Linked DNA regions of Homo sapiens: all the other regions are linked to region 4. The links come from fine-mapping of genetic effects on gene expression. A gene starts in region 4. Each other region holds a variant in brackets. All regions are shown on one strand. Distances are from middle to middle.

Region 1 (4,000 bases), 24 kb after region 4:
CCCTCAGGGCTGTGGTGTTTGCCCAGGCTGCAGAGTTCTGGGGTTGGTCTCTGCATCTGTCGCTGTACAGAGTACCCCAGGCAATGTGCATCAGCAGCCAAGGTTGTGAACCACTGAGTGGCAGGACTCCTGCTGTGTGGGAAGGGCTTTCACTTGTATAGATGCTTACCTTTCCACTGTCGGGATGGAGTGGAGCAGGGTTGCATGAGCACCAGGGAATTGTGACCAGCTGTTTTCTCCTTTGGCAGATGAGGAATGAATTTACCATTACCCATGTTCTCATCCCCAAGCAAAGTGCTGGGTCTGATTACTGCAACACAGAGAACGAAGAAGAACTTTTCCTCATACAGGATCAGCAGGGCCTCATCACACTGGGCTGGATTCATGTAAGCAATTCTGAGCTGTCCGAGAGTTAGTCTCTGCCTCTCCCATGGTGGTATAAATACATGAGTGTTTCTTTGAACAAAGTCAATTATATCCAGATTATTTATTGTTTTTCTCTCTTTTGGATGCAGTCCTTAGCATACTTGACTATTGCACTTTGGTATTGTTTTCTGGGAACACTTAGGGCTTTTAAATTTTTTTAACTTTTTATTTATTTTTTAGTAAAAATAAACTGTTTTCCCTAAAGTTCCAGTTTCCCTCTGAGTGTAACTGGTGATGGGATGCTGGCCTAGAATATAAGTGGACATTGACCTTAGAGACTATGCCTACTGTGTACAGATGATGTTCCTTAAAGGTATATAATTCAAAATATTTTAAATGAGCCAAGGAGGTTAATTCAGATGCTTGCATTTGGTCTTTCTTAAAGCACCTTTATATAAACAAGAAGGGCTATAAATACACATGATTTTCAAGTGTCTGCATATCTTGTGCAGCCTTCTGGTAATGTTCAGGTAAAATATAATGCCTTCCCTAAAGATTATTTTTAAATTTTTCTTTCTATTCCTTTTCAACCCCTCACTCTCATAGCCCAAGCTGCATTTTATGCTGTATGACAGAGTTACAAATAAATTGGCTTATTCTTGGATTACACATACTTGTATGCCAGAATTTGGGAAAGACTGACCTGTGAGGCAGTCCCATGTGCCTTCTGTCCTTTCTTCTATTCAATTACATTCATGTTGATGATTTGCCTATTATTGTGTATCCCCATCCCACCCCCATTGTAGTAGATGGGGGAGAGAAAACTTGTTCCTTATCTGCCAGGGCATACAAATTTGAGTAAGGTATGATTTTAGCCTCATGAAGGAGATTAAATAAATAGACAATTAATAACTTCACCTGGGGCAGAACGTGCTAAAGGCCACAAGAGGTGCCAGCGAGGCACTGTGGAATTCAGAGGAAGGAGGGACCATGCCTGATAGGGTTTAGTAGAATGTTGGCAAGCTGGGCCAAGGGCAAGTTCCTTAAGGAGCAGACAGGTGGAGAAGAGGCGGACTCTGTCCCTGGAGCACTGGGGGGACCAGTTCACTGAGATTTATGGTTCATATCAGGAAACAGTGGTAGATTTTTTTTTTTTTTTTTTTGAGACAGAGTTTCACTCTTTTCACCCAGACTGGAGTGCAATGGCAAGATCTTGGCTCACTGCAACCTCCACCTCCCGGATTCAAGCGATTCTCCTACCTCAGCCTCCCAAGTAGCTGGGACTACAAGCGCC[C/T]GCCACCATGCCCAGCTAATTTTTGTATTTTTGGTAGAGATGGGATTTCACCATGTTGGCCAGACTGGTCTCGAACTACTGATCTCAGGTGATCCACCCGCCTCAGCCTCCCAAAGTGCTGGGATTACAGGCATGAGCCACCACGCCCGGCTAGATATGTTTTAATGTAGTACATTGGAGCCGAGTTCTGGAGGGTCTGGGGTGGACAGGCAGAATTGTTCCACTTTTTAGTAAGTGGAAAATTCCTAAAGGTTTTTGAGTAGAGCAATGATATGATTAAAGCCATACTTTAGAAAATTTAACATAAATACAGTTTTAAGGTAGGTTGTGGCAAGGAGATGATTTAAGAGGTTAGTGTGCTGATAAAGCCTAATAATGATAAGAGCTAGGGTGATGCTAGTGTGTTTGGGAAGGAGGAGATGAATGTAGGATTTCAGAGGATTTGGGAAATGAGTAATAGAGGATGATGACTCAGAGTCAATGGTGACTCAGAGATTTGGGGCCTTGCAGTGATCATCTCATAAGCAAAAGTAGGGGATCCAGGAGAAGGATTTGGTTTGAAAGTGGGGTTCAGTTCTGAGCATGTTAAATTTCAGGTATTGATGAGATATTAAATCACTGGAGGTAGTTATCAGCCAGTTGGCAATGTAGGGCTAGAACTTGGGAGCAAAGTCAAAGCAGGAGAGAGGGCTCTGGGAATCCACTATTTAGTGCTGATCTTGGAAGCCCTGGAAGTAGGAGAAGAGTCTAGAGCAAGAAAAGGTTCACTGGCAACTTGGGGGACAGGCTACCTAATGTAACATAGAATGTAGTTAGCAATGGAGCAAAGAGATGTATGAAAAAGGTGAGGGTAGTGGTAAGGCACAGAAGCCATAGGAGGAGGAAGGCTCTTTTGTTTTGTTTTGTTTTTGAGACGGAGTCTCACACTGTCGCCCAGGTTGGGGTGCAGTGGCGCAATCTTGGCTCTGCAACCTCCGCCTCCCAGGTTCAAGTGATTCTCCTGCCTCAGTGTCCTGAGTAGCTGTGATTACAGGTACCCGCCACTATGCCTGGCTAATTGTGTGTGTGTGTGTGTGTGTGTGTGTGTGTGTGTGTATTTTTAGTAGACTGGGTTTCACTATGTTGGCCAGGTGTGTGTGTGTGTGTGTGTGTGTGTGTGTGTGTGTGTATTTTTAGTAGAGACTGGGTTTCACTATGTTGGCCAGGCTGGTCTCGAAATCCTGACCTTGTGATCCTCGTGATTATAGGCATGAGCCACCGCACCCGGCCAAGGAAGGCTTTAAGAAAAAATTTCCAGATGTTAACCATGTCACATCCTATGGAGAGCTCCAGAATGGTGAAGACTCGGATCGGCCTGGATTTGATGAAATTATTGAGGATCTCGATTTAGTGTGTTTTAGGCATTAATGGGAGTAGACTGTAAGAGTTTAAGAACTCATAGGGATTAAGTTTGTGGAGACAATGAAGTATACACTACCATTTTGAGCAACTTAGCTCTAGAGGAAAGGAGAAACATGGAATGGTGGTTTAAGGAGAAGTTGGGTTGAGAGAATGTTTGGTTGATTGTTCAAAGTGAAAGGCTTGAACATGTTTTGTTTTGATGAAATATAACACATGTAATAAGAAAGCACACAGAAACTAAATATATACTTTAGGCCGGGTGCGGTGGCTCAAGCCTGTAATCCCAGCAGTTTGGGAGACCAAGGCGGGCAGATCACGAGGTCAGGAGTGCGAGACCAGCCTGGCCAACATAGTGAAACCCTGTCTCTACTAAAAACACAAAAATTAGCTGGACATGGTGGCGCATGCCTGTAGTCCCAGCTACTCGAGAGGCTGAGGCAGGAGAATTGCTTGAACCCCAGAGGCGGAGGTTGTGGTGAGCCAAGATTACGCCACTGCACTCCAGCCTGGGCAACAGAGCGAGACTTGGTCTTGGGAAAAAAAGAAACTAAATGTACACTTTAACAAATCATTAAGCAAATATCTATGTACATACACTACCTAGGTCAGGAAACAGAACACTGTCAGGAGCATGCATGCCCTAAGGGAGGGAAGTCCTCCCTTCCTTGCTTCGTTTATAATTTCACCACTTCAATGTGTATCTCTAAACACTATAGTTTACTTTTGCCTGGCTTTTACCTTTTTGTAAATGGAGTTATACCATATGTATATTTGTGTCTTGCTTCTTTTGCTCAACATTTTGAAGGTTTATCCACATTCTTGTGTGTAGTTTTCTGAACATGTTCTTATGCCCAATGAGCCAACAATGGAGATGTAAAAGGGCAGGAGAGACAAGGTAATGTGGTGATAAGGAAGGATCGAATGAGAAGTACATAGAGG
Region 2 (4,268 bases), 40 kb after region 4:
GAACCTCCCACTTTTGTTGTTCCAACTACTTCTTGAGATGAAGGAAGGGCAGAACATTGGCCCTCTTCACTGAAGTCTTCACCCCTTAATCCAGGGTTCAATTTTTAGTTCACCTTAGCCTGTTTGAGATTAGAAGCTGGGCCTTAACTTACAGGTGTGTCCGGCATCATTCAATCAGCCTGTTAGATCCAGAATCCAGCACTGTGACGCTACATAACCATGGGCTCTGTCCTTCCAGTTCCTTTAGTGCCTTCCCTCACTGGTAGGTTCACTCTGAGGGCTTCCTTCCTTGAACTCCAGTGGCAACTATAGTCTGTTTCCCACAATTTGTTGTGTGTGTTTTTTGTTGTTTTGCAGCGTTTTCATATTGTCTTTTATGTAAGTCATGTTTCTGAACTATCGTATAAATTTCATTAGGGTAAGAATCATGTTTGCTTTATGCACTGTGTAACATGCCTTGCAGTCAGTATAGGCACTTAACCTTATTGATCAGTTGTTCCTTGGTGTTGAATAATGTGTTAGGTAGCCAGGTGGACCTGTGTCCTAGCCTGGAGAAGCTCTATGTCACCTTGTAGGAAGCCATCTGAATTTGACTCAGCATCATATGCTGGGCCTGTGCTGCACTTGAGCTTTCTTTCCAGCCGCCAGGAGGGATGGTTGTCCTGGCCAACAGCGAATTTAATGGGTGGTCAAAAGAAGATGTGCCTGCATAGAAGGCTGAAAGAGGGAGCTGGAAGTAGGAGGAGACAAGGAGATAGTGACACCAGTATCTTGTCACAGAAATCAAGGAAGGCAACAGTTTAAAGGAGGGGAGGGAGATCAGTGGTGCCAACTGGCTCAGAAGAGGTTTGCTGGGTTAAATCTCAAGATGAGCCCATGAGATCTGGTGGTTAGCAGAGGCCTTTCCTGACAACCCCATTTTAAGCACCTCTTCCCCATCACTCTATCTCATCACTGTTACTGTCTGTGTAGCCCTGTCATGAGCTAAAATCATCCTGTTTGTTTATTGCTAGCTTATGTGTCTAAAGTATACTCCTTGAGAACAGCAACTTTGTCTTTTTCACCTTTGTACTGAGTCCCCTGACATGGAATAAGATATGAATAAATGCACAGACTTGTCCAAAATCATCCAATTAATAAATGGTAAGGCTTTGCTTTTTTGGGAGAAGTGCAACAAATGTGAGCACATTTTAAATATTGATGTTTAAAGATTGTGAAAATTAAAAATTAACAATCAGCCGGGCATGGTGGCTCATGCCTGTCATCCCAGCAGGAGGCCAAGGCGGGTGGATCACCTGAGGTCAGGAGTTTGAGACCAGCCTGATCAACATGGAGAAACCCTGTCTCTACTAAAAATACAAAATTAGCCAGATGTGGTGGCACATGCCTGTAATCCCAGCTACTTGGGAGGCTAAGGCATGAGAATCGCTTGAACCTGGGAAGTGGAGGTTGTGGTGAGCCAAGATCACGCCATTGCACTCCAGCCTGGGCAACGAGCGAAACTCCGTCTAAAAAAATAAATAAATAACAATAATAGAAGGTTACCTCTAGAAGAAAGGCAAATGAGAAAAACTACATATATAATCATTCATCTTTTATTTAGAGATGAACGATAATACAATATCACAAATTAAAATTTCTGTAATTTCTACAAATTATACAGAGAAGGAAATTTAGAACTCTAAATGCTTTCATTATTTAAGAAGAAAGAATCAAAAGATATGAATTAAGCATCGGACTCAAATTAGAAAAAGAATAATAAAATATACTAGGAAACCAGGGGGAAAGAAATAAGTACTAAAGCAGAAATTGGCCAGGTGCGGTGGCTTACGCCTGTAATCCCAGCACTTTAGGAGGCCGAGGCGGGTGGATCACCTGAGGTCAGGAGTTCAAGACCAGCGTGACAAACATGGAGAAACCCCATCTTTACTAAAAATACAAAATTAGCCGGCTGTGGTGGCACACGCCTGTAATCCCAGCTACTTGGGAGGCTGAGGCAGGAGAATCGTTTGAGCTCAGGAGGCGGAGGTTGTGGTGAGCCGAGATCACGCCATTGCGCTCCAGCCTGGGCAACAAGAGCAAAACTCTGTCT[C/CA]AAAAAAAAAAAAAAAACCCAGAAATTAAGTAAATGACATAAGTCATTTTTATGAGCACAATCTCATAAATTGTGTACACACACACACACTTCACATCAAAATCAATAATATAGATGCAAAAATTCTAAATAGAACACTAAAAAAATCATCAATCTAGTAAAGGAATAAAGTATCCTAACTGCCAGCATGTATTATGCATCCTCATGTAGGACTTGCCCATGATTCCACTGCTAGAAAGTGATGAGTCGGATGGCAGCCCAGGTCTACCTGACTCTGAGAGCCCTGAGGCGTTTGGTGATTTTTGTCCCTAGAATGTAATGGTGACCTCATTAAAAGAAATCCACTGATATAATATATCACAGGAGTAGGTCAAAGGAAACAAGCAGAAACAAGAGTCTCTCATAAAAAAAAATTTTTTTAAGATGAAAATCAACATTTATTTTTTATTTTTTAAACTCCCCTAGTAAGGAAAGAAAGGGCCAGGCACAGTGGCATACATCTGTGATCCCAGCGCTTTGGGAGGCTGAGGTGGGCGGATCACTTAAGCCCAGGGATTCGAGACCAGCCTGGGCAACATAGTGAAACCCTGTCTCTACAAAAAACTAGCCAGGCATTGGTGCATGCCTGTGGTCCTAGCTACCCAGTAAGCTGAGGTGGGAGGATCACCTGAGCCCAGGGAGGTCAAGGCTATAGTGAGCTGTGATAGCGCCACTGCACTCCAGCCTGGACGAGGGTGAGAGAGGCCTTGACTCAAAAAAAGAAAAAAAAAGAAAGCAAGAAGCTTCGTTAACATGATAAAATAAATCTTCTAATATATAACACCCAGCGTCATACTTAATAAGCAAACACTGCTGTCAGGGACAAGATAGATCCATTCTAACTACTATTATTGAACAGTGTCCTGAAAGGATAATCTAACCAATGCAGTGAAGCAGGATAAAGAGTATACTACTGGAAAGCAGACAGGTTTGGGCTACAAGCTAAGTATCTACCTAGAAATCTGAAGATAATAAATTCTGAAAAATGGTCAGACCTATTAAGAGAAAGGCACAACGATGTTCACTAAAAGATACATTTTAAAACTTTGAAAATAGCTTTTCAGTACAGGTAATAGCCATTTGTGATTGGGGGAAAAAAAATCTAATTCAGCACATAGCAACTAAAAATATAAAATACTTTGGAACAAAGTTAACAGGAAATGTGCAAGCCTCATATGAAGAAAACCAGTAAGCTTTTCAGAGGAACATGAAGAAAATAAATGGAAAGACAGGCACACTATCGGTATTCTATGAGAGAAAGACAATGTTTTAATTTTAAAGATGCTACGTCTTCTTTAATCCAAAAATTTAAATGCAAGTCTGCTAAAAAGTATCATTTTTTAACTTGAAAGATTATTCTAAAATTAATCTGAGATATGTGAAATAACATTTAAAAATTGAAAGAAAAAAAGAATTTTGGGGGAAATTTATTACCAGATAATGCTTATTATAAACCTATGCTAAATGACGAGTTAATGGGTGCAGCACACCAACATGGCACATGTATACATATGGAACAAACCTGCACATTGTGCACATGTACCCTAAAACTTAAAGTATAATAATAATAAAACTTTAAAAAATAAAAATAAAAAATAAACCTATAAGTTAAAGTAATTTGATACTGACCGAGGACTAGATTAAGAATCAGCAAACTTTATTGTTGAAGGAAGTAAGACTTAGAAGAGTTTAAGTTGACCAAGGCCACAGAACTCCAAATGAATAGTGTCAGACTTTCAAACCCACACTCAACCACACTGTAATGCTGCCTTCCTAAAATATACATTAATACATGTATTCAGAAAAACTATGAATAAGAAGTACCTAAAAATATTAATATTAGTTATCTGTAGGTGATAGAATTATGGGATGACTGTTCATTTTTCCCCCATATCCTTTTTCGAATTTCTTCAAATGTACTACAAAGAACATGTATTGCTTTTATAATTGGACAAAAAGGACAATACCTTCTATTTTCAGAAACCGAAACTTCATTGCCCCTTCAATGTGGGAATCCAGCCAGACCCTATTCTTGGACAGCATCAGTGAAAGGGGCTTGGGAAAGCTCTTGGGCGTAGCAGCAGAGGCATGTCATATATGGAAACCTTCCATGAGGGTGACCTCACCACTGGAACCC
Region 3 (4,000 bases), 29 kb after region 4:
TTTTGTTACCTAAGATCACACCTCCTCTAAGATGAACATAAGTCATTATATAGTTGTCTGTTTTGTATATAAAATATGTGCTTAATAAAACAAACAATGGAAACAAATAATCGGGATGCACATTTAGGTGATATTTTAACTGATTAACCTCAAATTTTAGCATCGTGTTCTCCTTCCAAACAGAATGGTCTCCTTTGTATGGTTTAACTATCAACTGAAATTCAAGTATTCCCCTACCTCCCATATCTTCCTTGGATGATGCTTTAGCTACAGGACAGCCTTTGCCTATAGAACCTGATTCATGTTTGACCTTTTAACACCTCTGTGGGAGAGAAGAATCATTCATCTAATTGTGGTTTACTAAGTCCTTGACTTCCACCATGTTGAAATATTGGGTATGTACCATCTGTTCCAGAATGGGTGACTCAGTGGTATGAAGAGACCTTGTAAGGAACCAAATAAGTCTTGATGGTCAGTTAGAAATTATGAGTCTCTTGAAAAACCAAAGCCTGAATCATCCAGAGAGAAACACTTCTTAGAGGAGATAGAAGAAATTCCCTAGCAAAAGTTCCAAGGGCCACTGAGTGCCATTCACAATTGTTGAGGACACCCACCTACCTTGTCCATGGATGCCCATCATGACAACCCCATTAACACCTTTGATTCCATGGATCCCTGGGTGAATCCAACATCATAGTCCTTGAGTTCTTCCAATTTGGTTCAAGAACAGGAGAGCTAGAGCAGGAAATATCAACAAACAACCCCCTCTTCTGTCTCCAACCCTGAGATGCAAATGTCTTTTCCTGTCTCCACTCCTACTGTCTGGTGATCTTTGTGCAGCAGGTATGTGCCTGAAGGAGGTCTCCAAGCCAGTTTCTGTGTGCTGTCATCTGAGATGGGGTTCCCCTTGCCAGTTCTCACACCCCACAAGACCCACCATACTGATCTCCTGGCTAGCACACACCAACCCCAGGGAAGCCTTTTCTTCACACTTGGAACCTAGATCTTGATTTCCTTTTGTGAGGTCAGAATTTGTTTAACTGGAATGTGGCACAGCATTGAATTCTTCTGCCTTGTCTATTCCAGCCTCAGAATTCTGTTTTTCTCCCACTTTGCAGTGGTCTTTGAGTTTTAACACTGTGGAACAGTATCTTTCCCCGATGATGCCCCAGATGGAAGGTTTGAGTTCTGTCCCTGGGTCCTCTCCATACCCTACCTGTTTAATGGCCCGATGTCTTGATGCCTTCTCGCATCAAGGCTCTGCGCCTACAGTCCTTCATCCAACCAGGAATTCCAGAACCCATCAGGTACCCTAGATCTTCTGAACCAGTGGGATCAGAGTCCCCGTTTTGAGTAGTACAGAGAAGAAAGTTCCCCCTTTGTGTTTACCTCCCTTTTTGTCTGCCTACTCCAGTTCCCCCTTCCCCCTGAGTGCTCAAGCTGCCTAACATCTTCCACTGCCTTCAAACAAGGGAAGCCAGAAAGTTCCAAGCCTCTTCGTCCACAGTTTACTTTTGTCCAGTACAGCCTTGGTGACCTCTGGGAGCTCTCTCCCTGAGAAGGTTGTCTGAGTGAATTAGATGAAATGTGGTGGGTGGGTTATTTGGTATGTCATCTATAACCATGAGCTAGGACGGCATGCGCTTGCCTGGGCTTAATGCTGTTACTTTCCATTAGAAAAAGATCACCTTATCATTCATCAGACACTCTACAGAATCTCAGAATTATGGTTCTGCACAATGTAAGTGAGGGCATACATCCACCTACCCAGGAACTGAAGTGGAATCTCCCCCACCCCACTTGTGGCATCTCCCCACGATTGCTCTTCAGACAAATCCTCATCTGTTTAGTTGTCATTCTGCTGGGGACAATGCAATCTAAGTTATTTCATTTAGTTATTTTCATCCCCTTCCCCTCTCTCATTGTATCCTTCACCACAGACAGCTCTTCCAGTTTCCAATAATTGTTTATACTCCTTATTTCTTTTTCTTTTTTTTTGAGATGGAGTCTCGCTCTGTCACCCAGGCTGGAGTGCAGTGGCGCGATCTCGGCTCACTGCAAGCTCCACCTCCCGGGTTCATGCTCTTCTCCTGCCTCA[A/G]CCTCCTAAGTAGCTGGGACTACAGGCGCGTGCCACCACGCCTGGCTAATTGTTTTGTATTTTTTTTTTTTTTTTTTTTTTTTTTAGTAGAGACAGGGTTTCACCATGTTAGCCAGGATGGTCTTGATCTCCTGACCTCATGATCTGCCTGCCTCAGCCTCCCGAATAGCTGAGATTACAGGTGCCCGCCACCACGCCCAGCCAACTTTTGTATTTTTAAGAGAGATGTGGTTTCACCATGTTGGCCAGGCTGGTCTCAAACTCCTGACCTCAAATGATCTGCCCTCCTCAGCCTCCCAAAGTGCTGGGGGTTACGGACATAAGCCTCCATGCCCAGCCTGTTTTTGTTTTTTCTTTTTTTAATTGACAAATAACAATAGTCTATATGTTTTGAAATATGTATGCATATATTGTGGAATGGGAAAATCAAGCTAATTAGCATATGCATTATGTCACATACTTTTTTGTGGTGAGAACACTTGAAATCTACTCTCTTAAGCAGTTTTCAAGTGTATAATACATTGTGATGAACAGTAGTCACCATGTTGTATAGTAAGTCTCTTGAACTTAAAAAAGGAAAGAAATTATGAGTCTCTTCACATACTGGTATTAAGCAATATTTGTTTACAGTGCTGGAAAGGAGCTTCCTTACTTATTAGGAACCTCAGGTGGACCTCTCATGGTTGCAGATGGCTTCTCACTTACAAAGGAGATTGTGACCAGCTGTTGAGAACTGTTTGGCTTTACTTCCTTCAGAGACCAGACTTGGTTGTATGTCAGAGTAGTCCCCCCCTTATCCTCAGGGGATATGAGCCCAGACCCCCCAATGGATGCCTGAAATCACAGATAGTACCAAACCCTATATATGCTATGTTTTTTTCCTATACATGCATACTTGCGATAAAGTTTAATTTATAAATTAGGCACAGGAAGAGATTAACAACAACTATAATAAAACAGAACAGTTATAAAAATACAGTGTAATAAAAGTTATGTGAAGATGATCTCTCTTTCTCAAAGTATGTTATCGTATGTAATATTTTCAGATTGCAGTTGATATGGATAGCTTTAAACCTCAGAAAGGGAATCGCAAATAAGGAGGGATTACCATATATCCTCGCTAAGAGTCCTCTGACTCTTTTTCTCTCCTCAGACTCACCCCACACAGACCGCGTTTCTCTCCAGTGTCGACCTACACACTCACTGCTCTTACCAGATGATGTTGCCAGAGTCAGTAGCCATTGTTTGCTCCCCCAAGTTCCAGGAGTGAGTATAGAGGGCATGGTTCTGGGTGTTTCAAGGGGGTAGTAGGGAAGAAAGCCTCAGGGGAAAAGGTCTCTATTCTTGTGGACTTGTCCTTTGTAAAATACATAGATTATAATGTAAGTTGGTTATTCTAAAGGGCTTCCTTTTAAGCCCCATATCATGATTTATCTATCATGCTTGTTCAAAAAGATATCCAAGTAACAACTTAGTTGCTTTTCTAAGAAAAGTCTACAAGAAATTTGAAGTGTTTGACTTGAAGCGATAGGAATGTCAAGAGTTTTATGTTGGATTAGAAAGTTTCAAAATCATAAAATATAAAAAAATAAAAAATAAAAAATAAAAAAATATAATAAAAAAATAAAAATAAAAAATAAGAAAGTTTCAAAATCAAACACATTATCTCAGAATGCACTTCTTTTTCATACCAAATCCTGTCTCTACTCCCACTTTGATTATTTACTATGAATTCTCCAGCAAAACTAGTGTGATGGCAGTAATGAGTCATTCTCTAACTGTGATTCATTCACCAGAGAAGAGACCTGTGAGGCAGCATCCTACAGAAGCTGTCTCACAATGACCTCTGCCCTGCTGTGTGAGTGTGCATGCTGGTGTGTGTGTGCGTGCATATGTTTGGGA
Region 4 (4,268 bases):
CCTCCTGTCTCAGCCTTCCAAAGTGCTGGGATTACAGGCGTGAGCCAGCGCACCTGGTCCAGGCCTGTGTTTTCTAAACCCCGATGTTACATTTCAGATTAAGAACTTCACCTTCTAGGCATCTTTTGCTGCTGCCCAAAAATGAGCAAGTAGGAATGAGCATGCAGGAGTGCAGGAGACCTGACGTTGGCATATGCAAGCGGCCAGATGGAGGCTGCTATATTCAGGAAAAGTGTTCATGGCTGGGAGTGAGCACCGGAAGGAAAGAGCATCTCAATTCCTAACCTGGTCTAGTCTGCCAGGTGAACTGCTGAAGCCTATTTGCTGAAGGAATACCTTCCACGCTTAGCCTCCAATCTTTAGGGCAGGGGTAGGTAGGATATTCTCATCAGTTATGCCAAGAATCTTTTATAGCTTTGATTTCCTGATTGTGTATACAAAATTGTTTAGTTTTTAAACTTTTCCAGTTAAACAAGAAATGAGGAATGTAAAATTTTTACCTTGGCCAAGATTTTCTTATTTCAGGTCCCTAGAAAGCTGAGTATTGAACTTTGCCCCAGATATCAAAAACTCTGGTCAACATTTACAAATTCTCTCCCTAAAAAGACTAGATCCTGCTTCCTATATTCACTTAGCTATTACCTTAAGAACTGCTAGCAACTGGGCATATTAACTTTCTAATATCAGGAACAGCCTCTATGTGGCGCTAGCTATGTTTACGACTATGCACACCCCTTATATGTGTGTCTCAGTTATAGCTTCTTAAAGTCTTCTCATCATAATCTTAAAATCTAGGATGTTTGTAAATTTTCTTTACTTGTTAAGCTAAACATTATAAAAAAAAGAACTACTTTAGAGATTGTGCTGAATGGGAGCAGATGCCCCTCCCTACCCCACCAGCTGTACTTCTACCTGTGCTTCCACCATTAGAGTATCCACCTGCTGGGTTTGTTTGCTGATGTATCCCTAACACCTAGAACAGAACCTGGCACATAGTAGACACTCAGTAAACATTTACTGAGTGAGAGGTTGAATGGATCAGATTTTGACCTGTGTTGCCTCCTGCCAGGACCCCATCTGCACTATAATGCCCACCCAATGACCAGCATCTCCAGTGCATCAATTTCTTTAGGCCCAACCCATCATGTTTACATTCTGAAGAGAGTCAGTAGAGAGAGTTTTGAAGACACAGTAGAGTGCCCTATACAATTATCTTCCCAGATTTATCTGCAGTAGATCCATGAGAGTTGATAGTAGACCCATGCACATTAATGCTTGCTGGGGGCAGAAGGGGAGGTGATATGATGCAAGCAAGTACTTTCAACCCTAAGTCTGAAAAGTTGATGACTACACAAAATCACTTCAGGTAACTCCAACAGAAATATACACAACGGAGGTTGGGAGAAATGAGAGATCTGGAGGCTGGCTAGGTGGAGGAGGCAACACCTGAATTAGGGATTTAAGCTAGACCTTGAAGAATAGGTCATGCCATCACACTAACAAACTCACAGGGAGGCTCCCAAATTTTGGGAAAGTGTCCCCCAGAGACTTAGACTTTTAAACCAAAGCCTAATGTTTCACAAAGTCTTCTGAGACAGAATGATTAGCAAGCTTGTAGGACCTTTTTGTAAAGAGGATGTATATGGATTCGTACAGACACACATCTACATGCAGAACGTGCCATTCTGTATTTGATGCATAAAACCACCTTGTCCCGGTCTCAGGGCAGGAACAGTGTCATACAGATTTTTGTGTCTCCACTGCTTTTGCATAGCGGCTCTTAGAGATTAAACGCTTTTTTTCCAAATATTTTATAGGTTTTTTGACATTAAAACGTTAGTCTCATCTGGGTGCGGTGGCACACGCCAGTAATCCCAGTACTTTGGGAGGCAGAGGCAAGAAGATCGCTTGAGCCCTGAAGTTGGAGACCACAGTGAGCTATGATCACACCACTGCACTCCTGTGACAGCCTGGGTGACACCGCAAGACCCTGTCTTAAAAAAAAAAAAAGTTAGACTTATGTTCTTTTCTAAGCAATAAAATTAGTCTTAGATATTGCCTAATATCTAAGACTACCAATTTTTGTGTAGAATGTAATACAAGCTAAAAAATACATTCGAAAGACTTTCTGTCCCCCAATTTATAAATCCTGGTTAGTTTAGCTAAGTCTGCAGTTGTGCTGGGATCAGCAATCCCTCCTTAAATGCAGGAGTATTGTGAGTGTGATGAGGGACTACCCCAAATCAAAATAATTTTAAAAGCAAACCTTAGCTTGCTAATTGGTTCCACTTTCTTCCTTGTTCCTTTTCCTTTACCAAGATGGCCGCTGTGTCGTTCGCTCCTCATTGGTCGGATTTTCCGCAGGTGCCGATTCTAGCCCCACCTACTAGCTCTCCGTTCCAAGTCCTAAATCACTGGGAATGTAATAGACAGACGAACGGGAGTGGGCGGAGCGGGCGCCGGATGTGACGTTTCCGGAACCTCCGGGTGTCATCCGCGGGGAAAGGTGGGGAAGGGTCCCGGGAACGTGGTGGGGCAGGGCCTCCGAGCGTGGTTGGACTTTGAAGGGGATCGGCCGCCGTGAGTGTGGGGCCTGCAGCCTACTCTCCCCGAGTCCCCTGCCCGGCCTGCCTCGCTCGAGGCACCCGACGGCTTCTGTCTCCGCGGGCTGGCGCCTGACCAGCCAGGCCCAGCGGTTCCCCGCCTACTGCATTTGAAAGATCCCGAAAACCCTGGATGATTGTGCCTGGGGTTGGCAAGTTCGTCTTGAGTGCCTTCAAGAAGGGTTCCTCAAGCAGTTGTCGATAGAGCCCTCCCTACTGTATACGCCCCCTCCGCTCATTCCTGCTACTTCCTTTCTCCTCCTCGTATTTCCCCCTCGGTCCTTTACGCCGCCTTTCCCCCTCATTTGCAGATGCTGCATCCCCTTTTTGGAATTGCTCAACCAGGTGGTAACCGGCGCCGCTTCCTGGCCTTGGGAGGTGGTTCCTTTCTTAACCCACAAGAACCTCTCCCAAGAGGTACTGAGATGCAACAAGCATCCTCTGTTTCAGTTAACTTTCATGGGCCGTGGACTAGGTTTACTAATTACTTGGGGAGGTTTTAGATATGCTTGCGGCTTTCTGAGTCCCTAAGGAGGCCTCGTGAGAGATGGACTATCTCTGCATCCCTAGTAGTCCTCACGGCTTTTGTGCTATTAGTGAGGGTGTTTTAGAGGGGAAGGTTTGTGGAGGAATTGTGACCCGAATATTGAAGAGACCTAAAGATGGAATTGGCTGAGAGAAGACTACCCCTGAGGGAAGAGTTGTAGTAGAAAAGAAAAACTGGATAGATAAATGAAACTGAAATGTGAGGATGCCTGGGCGGATTGGAATCCTGACTGAAGCAAAAGATCTCTGTTGGGGAGGGCCAGTTGCCACAGGGCCTTGAATTCCAAGATTTATTCTACTGTAGTTTGTGTATTCTAGAGCATACTGATTAGGGTTTGCTGTAATGCAATGTGTGTCAAATGCCCAGTTTTATTTTGGAGATGATAGTGGTGATATCTGGTTGGAATTTGGAATCTGATTCTAACAGCAACTATATCTAGAAAGACTAGAATTACTGGAGTTTTGGGACACCAGGGGTTTTTGCAATGCAAGTTACCATCGTGCCTTTTTGTTATTCAGTGTTTAGTCTATGAAGATGAGTAAATGGTTGTTTTCAAGATTTAAGTCTCTTGCCATGATAATGATGAATGAATGATTTTATAGATTGACTATAGTGGTTTAGTGAGCAGAGTTACAATTATGAGCATTAATTCCCAGACCAGTTCCCCTAACTCACCTTGTGCTCAAATATGAAAAAGGATACCACAGAAAATGTCAGTTACTCTCAGATTAAGTAAAAATGGTCAACCTTGAAGTTAGTTAACAATCCTCAAGAAAGTTCACTGAGTGCACTCTGCCAGGTACTGGGGTGGAGGTATGTGGGTATCTGGAAGGAGAAATAATAGAAAATAAAAGATGCTGTTCCCACTTTTACAGTGCTGTGGGCGGAGCCCCCTAATGGCAAAGGATTTGATTAACTTGAACTGAACCTTTGGTTGGTCCACTGTGGTTCTACTCCTTATACCACCTAATTATGGTACAGGGGTTGTATGTTTTCTAGTCTGCCAGTACTCTCATCGTTGTGATTTGGGCTTCCTTGAGGGTCTCAGCCTTCTTGTAGGAAAGTCCTTATTTAATAGGAGCCACAGCATTTGGTATGTTTCTCTTATATTTTCTTCT

Alleles and levels. Alleles are on the strand shown, and positions count from the first base shown. SD is a standard deviation of normalised expression in the study named. Not every link is listed here.
For the expression in monocytes after triphosphate RNA of the gene that starts at base 2,471 in region 4, CA is the low allele of the variant in region 2 and C is the other (large effect, 0.76 SD a copy in Kim-Hellmuth 2017).
In carriers of allele A in region 3, the expression in tibial nerve of the gene that starts at base 2,471 in region 4 tends to be lower than with G alone (small effect, 0.27 SD a copy in GTEx).

Evidence for each region. PIP is the estimated chance that this variant, and not a neighbour inherited with it, causes the effect.
Region 1: its variant is the best candidate, but not a certain one, in a credible set for the expression of STAMBP in subcutaneous fat (GTEx, PIP 0.72).
Region 2: its variant is the best candidate, but not a certain one, in a credible set for the expression of STAMBP in monocytes after triphosphate RNA (Kim-Hellmuth 2017, PIP 0.76).
Region 3: its variant is the best candidate, but not a certain one, in a credible set for the expression of STAMBP in tibial nerve (GTEx, PIP 0.80).

Annotation. Positions count from the first base shown.
Region 1 is chr2:73,850,128-73,854,127 of GRCh38, forward strand. It overlaps STAMBP (STAM binding protein), which reads left to right. Exons shown (of 10, transcript NM_213622.4): 7 at 249-386. The region is part of intron 1 of LOC112268419 (a long non-coding RNA gene); the gene reads right to left. Among named protein-coding and RNA genes, the nearest start is that of STAMBP, 23 kb to the left of the region's middle. The variant C/T (reference allele first, on the strand shown) is at 1,661.
Region 2 is chr2:73,866,032-73,870,299 of GRCh38, forward strand. STAMBP (STAM binding protein) reads left to right here. Exons shown (of 10, transcript NM_213622.4): 10 at 1-1,137. Among named protein-coding and RNA genes, the nearest start is that of ACTG2, 25 kb to the right of the region's middle. The variant C/CA (reference allele first, on the strand shown) is at 2,093.
Region 3 is chr2:73,856,003-73,860,002 of GRCh38, forward strand. STAMBP (STAM binding protein) reads left to right here. Exons shown (of 10, transcript NM_213622.4): 8 at 3,252-3,364. LOC112268419 (a long non-coding RNA gene) reads right to left here and starts at 975. Exons shown (of 3, transcript XR_007087106.1): 1 at 619-975. The variant A/G (reference allele first, on the strand shown) is at 2,099.
Region 4 is chr2:73,826,491-73,830,758 of GRCh38, forward strand. STAMBP (STAM binding protein) reads left to right here and starts at 2,471. Exons shown (of 10, transcript NM_213622.4): 1 at 2,471-3,020. LOC105374807 (a long non-coding RNA gene) reads right to left here and starts at 3,908. Exons shown (of 3, transcript XR_940246.3): 1 at 3,826-3,908; 2 at 2,267-2,414. RefSeq lists a silencer at 2,242-2,460 and an enhancer at 3,968-4,268.